Linked DNA regions of Homo sapiens: region 1 is linked to region 2. Evidence: fine-mapped expression QTL. Tissue or cell type: fibroblasts. Region 2 holds a variant in brackets; the other region holds the start of a gene. All regions are shown on one strand. Distances are from middle to middle. Region 1 holds the start of PUM3 (pumilio RNA binding family member 3). Region 2 has its middle 26 kb from the start of PUM3.

Region 1 (2,912 bases), 26 kb before region 2:
CCTCTAATTATGTGTCTAACAGGAACCTTACCCTTAATATGTCCAAAACATAATTCTCTATGTTGTTCTTTATGTTATTGTTGTTTGCCCCACAAACAACAATATACTATTTTTCCCTGCCCTATCGTCCTCCATCTCAGCCAATGGCACATCATCTACTTTACTGCTCAAGTAAGAAATCTGAGTTACCCTTGACATTTTCCTCTCTACTCTGCCACGCTGAACCATAAGTTAGTTCTCTTAAATGTCCCTTACGTCACCACCCTAATGCAAACTATTACCAATACAATCTCTTGAGCTTCCAAATGTAATACATTTTCTAAAGAGAACCAGGGCCTATTCATGATTCTCACTTGCTTACAAGTCTTCAATGTTTTCTACACATGGTAATAGGAACGGAAATGTTTTCCTATTGTACAGAAAAAAAAATTCCCCATCATGACCTTCAAGGCCCTACAGAACCTAGTTCCACTCTATCCGGCTAACTTTATCTTGTACTCTAACTATACTCCTTCCTAGCTCCCATCTCAGGAACTTAGCCCATTATCGCCTCTGCTTGAAGTACTCCCTGAGCTTCCAAATCTCCGTTTAAAGATCACTTCTTCAGACTCCACTATCTGCCAACTCAGCATCCAGTTCGTTTCCTCCCAGCACTTAGAATCTGCGTACATTCAGGCAAACCGCCTAGCACTGGAGTTGGGGTTTGTGAAGTAGCACAGACAGGCTGATCAGGCCGAGCACGGGCTGGGATTCCGGAGTGAAGCTAGTCCACTCTAACCCGGCACGCAGGGCAACGTGGTGGGAGAGAGGTCGGAGTCCCGCCCTTCTTTTTTTTTTTTTTTTTTTTTTTGAGACGGAGTCTTGCTCTGTCTCCCAGGCTGGAGTGTAGTGGCACGATCTTGGCTCACTGCAAGCTCCGCCTCCCGGGTTCACGCCATTCTCCTGCCTCAGCCTCCCAAGTAGCTGGGACCACAGGCGCCCGCCACCATGCCCGGCTAATTTTTTGTAGTTTTAGTAGAGACGGGGTTTCACCGTGTTAGCCAGGATGGTCTCGATCTCCTGACCTTGTGATCCGCCCGCCTCGGCCTCCCAAAGTGCTGGGATTACAGGCGTGAGCCACCGCGCCCGGCCAGTCCCGCCCTTCTTGCCAGGCTCCAGTCAGTCCCAAACTCCTAGCCCAGAAAGAGGCCAGAGGAGACTGCCCAGTGGACAACAGCCCCGAGAGACCTTCCCGACTTCCAGCGCCCGGCAGGGTGCGAACCCCTCCCAAGAGCGACCGCTGAGCCTGCCACACTCACCGCACACGTGGGACCGAGACAGCTCGCGCAGCGGATCCCGACCGCCTCTCCGCTTCCGCTTCCTTGCCTTGCTCCGCCCCCGGGCCGCTTTTTTTCATCTTCCGCGGCGGATCAGGGACTAAGAGGTGGAGCTTCCCAGAGAATACAAAAATTCGGAATTTCTATTGGTCCGCTGCTGTTATGCCTCCTCTTGAGGCGCGAGGATTTTGGCCCTTGCAAGAATCCGTCGGGCGGAGGACGCGACAACGGCCACGGGAAATGACGTCATTAACCCTGTGGCTTCCGTGCTGGAAAGAGAGGGAGAGCTCTTGCGAGGCAGAACAGGCTGCTGAAGGACAGACCTGGCTGGCGCGGTTAATAAGAGGCCTGCATCCCGTAGCCTGAACAAATATTGAAGTAGCTAAAGTTTCTAAAGTGTGTTAATTTGCATACTTCCTCAGCAGTCCAGCGTGGAGGATAAAAGGGGTATCTTGTGAGTCGATTTGAATTGTAATCCCGTTTTTTTCACTTGCTAGCTGTGTGGCTCTGGGAAAATTACAGTTTTTATGAGCTTTGGCTTCCTGATCAATAAAATAGAAATAATTAAGTGATACGTGCAAAGCGCTTAGCATGGAACGCTCTCAATAAATGTTTGCCATTTTTAGTGTCTGCTCGTGCCTGGAAACTGCTGTTATTCCATTTTATACTTCAGGAAATAAGATTGTGGTTAGGATATATGCCCCATTTTCCAGATGAAGAAACTGACACCACAAACTTGCTCGTGTCAAGCAACAGAATTTTATTCTTTAACTGTTCTAGAGGCAAGAATTCCAAAATCAAGCTGTTGGCAGAGCCCTGCACCTTTTGAAGGCTCTAGGGGAGAATGCTTTGCTTCTTCAGCTTCTAACGGTTCCAGGCGGTCCGTGGCCTCTTGTTGCATGACTCCAATCTCGGCCTGTCTTCTAATGGCCTTCTCCTGTGCCTGTGCCACTTCTCTGTGTGTTTTTAGGACACTGAACATTGAATTTAGAGTCCACGGGGATAATCCAAGATCATCTCATCTGGAGGTCCTTAATCACATCTGCAAAGGCCCTTTTCCCAAATAAGGTCACTTTCACATGTCCTGGGAGTTAGGACATAGACATATCTTTTGGAGACTATTCAACCCACTGCATCTGTAAAGTTGAGGAACTGGCACTTGATCCCTGGTGCCAGACTTCAGATTTTACTGTCTTCCAACTTACTCCGTTTTCTGGCCACTAAGGAGTTAGAGTTGAAACTGGTAATTTAGTAGACTGTATGCTTCTTGATGACAGGGGCCATCATTACTTTCCAGGCACTTATCTCACTATGCAGCACATAGATACTTGATAAGTTCTTGTCGTCTACCTTAACTGTTACTAGTTTACATTTCAGCTCATTTAAATCTCATAAGAACGTTTTAAATAGGTCTTTTCTCATTTTACAGAGAAAGGCAAAACATAGTAGCTTTGGTCCAGTGAGCCTGACTCTAAACTCAACGTGGCTGCCTCCGTACTGCTTTCAATAATTCAGTAAATGCTAAGAGAAGAGAATATGGAACAGGAATTGCAGGAGGCCCATCAGCTGTGCCTTTTGGGCAAATAGCATAGTAGT
Region 2 (2,912 bases):
CAGCCTGTAAATGATGAGCCTTTTAGCGCACTCCATGACTGAAGGGCACACAACTGTGAGAACAGCTCATTTCATTTTTTTCAATTTATACAAAAGATGCTGTGGCCCAAGCCCTCTAGGCACCCATCTCAATACATAAATATGCCAATTAAGCTAAATGGAGATCCTGCAGGTTAAAAGTGCCTCATAAAAGAAGGAGGCTTTTTCAAAGCCAGAAAGTTTATCCACAGAAGAAACACCAAATCAACAAAAGTGGATCCATGCCAAGCCATGAAGGCCAGAAAAACAAGGCTTCTGGGATCCAAAAAAGAAGAAAAACAACCATTAGTTGTTCCCTAGAAAACTGGGGAAAAAATACCTTTTAGCTGTGACTTCAGGATTCCAATCAGATGCTACTATTATTATTATTTTTTTCATTGCATTTTCCTGGGCAGGGTTGATGGTTGGGGTGGGTGAGTGGGAGAGGGAGGAAATCAGTCCTAAAGCTGAACTGATACAAAAGTGTCTCAGTTACCCACCAAATGTCACAAGGGCAGGTGTGGGCAAATCAGTGTTAGTTAGATATGCTATAGCCTTGCCACTCAAGCATGGCCCATCACACTCATGCCTGGCAGCCACAGTAGCTGCATCAGCTGGGGATGGCTAAAAGTAGAGAATGCAGGCCCCATCCCACATTATGTTAGCAAGAGACTGCATTTGGCCAAGATCCCCTAACGATTTGCCTGCATATTAAAATGCCAGAAGCCTTGACCTACACTAAATGGCCAGCCTGATACTCACCATCCCATCTCTGGAGAACTTATACTCTTTCTGCCTACCCTACAGCACTGAGGGAGTGGAGGTCTGGATCCAGGGAATGGGCTAAGGGAAAAAGATAGACAAATGGGTTTTTGTCCAGCTTTTAGTCAACTTCAACTGAGTGTAAGAATCTCAGGAGATGCTTCTGAATGGATTTATATACTCAGACTTGTCCATCATACATCTCCAAATCTTTGATGATCAGCTTCCAATCAAAAACTAGGTTTCTTGGGTCATCTTTAACACCTTATTTGGGGTCTGAGGAAATAGCCTCCACTATTGGAGGGCACTGAGGAAAAGTTTGGCAGTTTAGAGAGCAACAGATGGTAGCAGGTGAAAGGATTTTTACTTTATGTTCTTGGCCCTTGGATGTGCTTTTGTGTGAGCCAAGAATGTTGTATAGTTCTTCCAATGTTTCTCCCACTACTAATACTAAAAAGGCTTAGAAATGCCACAGACCCAACAACATCACCAATGTTATCAAAACCATTTCATGAAACTCCAAGCATCTTTGCTCACTCACTCAGTTACTCCCTCAGCCATTGACTC[T/C]GTGAGCATTTATCCATTATCTACTTGTCATAAACCCATTGCTCTGGGATTGCTGCCCTCTCGTCTACTTTCTTTTCCTGCCAAAATTTACCCATAGTCATCAATAACTGCCTTCCTTTCCTGAGACCTTGCTGTCTTTATTTCTCTGCCATCTGTCTCTATCCCCATGTCTCTATAGAAATAAGCCTTGAAAATCCCTTCTATCTCTTTGCCAAATGCAAGACAGAAATTCTTGACCATCCAATTGGAAACAAGAACTAAGGGTCGTACTCTCTCTGTGGCTTCCACGATACTGCATTTTATCTGCTTTCTTACTCCTGTAACTTCTCTCTTTCTTTGCTGTCTCTATTTCCTCTCATTATTCATCTTCTCCAAGTTGAAAGAGCAATCACAAAGTTTTCAATTTCCATCTACAGACTCATAGAGTAGATAGGCAGTGGGGCAAGCACTCTACTACACATTTAACTTACATTTTCAGTTAAAGTCACAGCATGCCAACAAGTAATAGTTCTCATTACTATTTTATTTTGTTTATGTTTTAAATAGAGACAGCGTCTCACTCTGTCACCCAGGCTGAAGTGCCATGGCATGATCATAGCTCACTGCAGCTTTGATCTCCTGTAACTTCCTCTCACCTCAGCCTCCTGAGTAGCTGGGACTACAAGGCACACAACAGTATGCCTGGCTAATATTTTTGTTTTAAAATTTTTTGTAGAGATGGGGTTTCACTATGTTGCTCAGGCTGGCCTCTTAAACTCCTGGCCTCAAGTGATCCTCCCACCTCAGCCTCCCAAAGTGCTGGGATTACAGGCCTGGCCCATTATTTTAAAGACAATAAACTCAAGGCTCAAAGGAAGTAGGTAACTTACTCAAGGTTACAGAGCTTGTTAGTGGGGAGCCCAAGCCCATTACATCCAAAATATAACCAGCAGGAATCCGTTGCCCTCTGAGGGAATCTAGAATAATGGGAGCTGAAAGTACTGACCAAACTGTCAGGGCAATAGAAATCCTGGATGGATGGAGGGCTTGGTATGAGGGCTGGAGGGAAACTGGGCCGTAGAAGGAGTCACATAAGCGTTCTAGTCAGAACTGACTGAGGCTGGTGGAGCAAGCTGGGATGGGGGCTGCTTTATGGGAGCTAATGCTGAGATAAGGAAATCAGTCACTTCAGTGGAGGAGAAGCTTGGGTCTAGAGACAATCTTACCTGTTTCACCTATATGCTCTTGAACCCACTTTACCAATTTCCAAGTAGGTATTATCACAAATTAATTCAATCCGGTGAACGCTATTGTGAGCTTTTTCTGTGCCTCATGGCGTCTAGTTGGCAAAAGGGGAAAGACCACGTTGATTTAACTACCCTAAACCTCAATATCAGAGAGACATGGTGTCCAAGCCAAGCTCTACCACACAGTTGCTATAAGGTACTGTACAAGTTATATATCTCTCTAAACCTGTTTTCTTATCTGTAAATGGGGATGATAATAGTTTGTTACTCATTCAATTGATGCAATGTCTAAATAGATTATGCTCAAGAAGCACTTATTACATAGAAATACTCCCTGAA

What was found. PIP is the estimated chance that this variant, and not a neighbour inherited with it, causes the effect.
Region 1: PUM3 starts here. The variant in region 2 is fine-mapped to the expression of PUM3 in fibroblasts (GTEx, PIP above 0.99).

What each region holds. Positions count from the first base shown.
Region 1 is chr9:2,842,747-2,845,658 of GRCh38, forward strand. PUM3 (pumilio RNA binding family member 3) reads right to left here and starts at 1,349. Exons shown (of 18, transcript NM_014878.5): 1 at 1,299-1,349. RefSeq lists enhancers at 378-939, 1,323-1,617, 1,441-1,680.
Region 2 is chr9:2,869,102-2,872,013 of GRCh38, forward strand. No RefSeq gene overlaps it. Among named protein-coding and RNA genes, the nearest start is that of PUM3, 26 kb to the left of the region's middle. The variant T/C (reference allele first, on the strand shown) is at 1,348.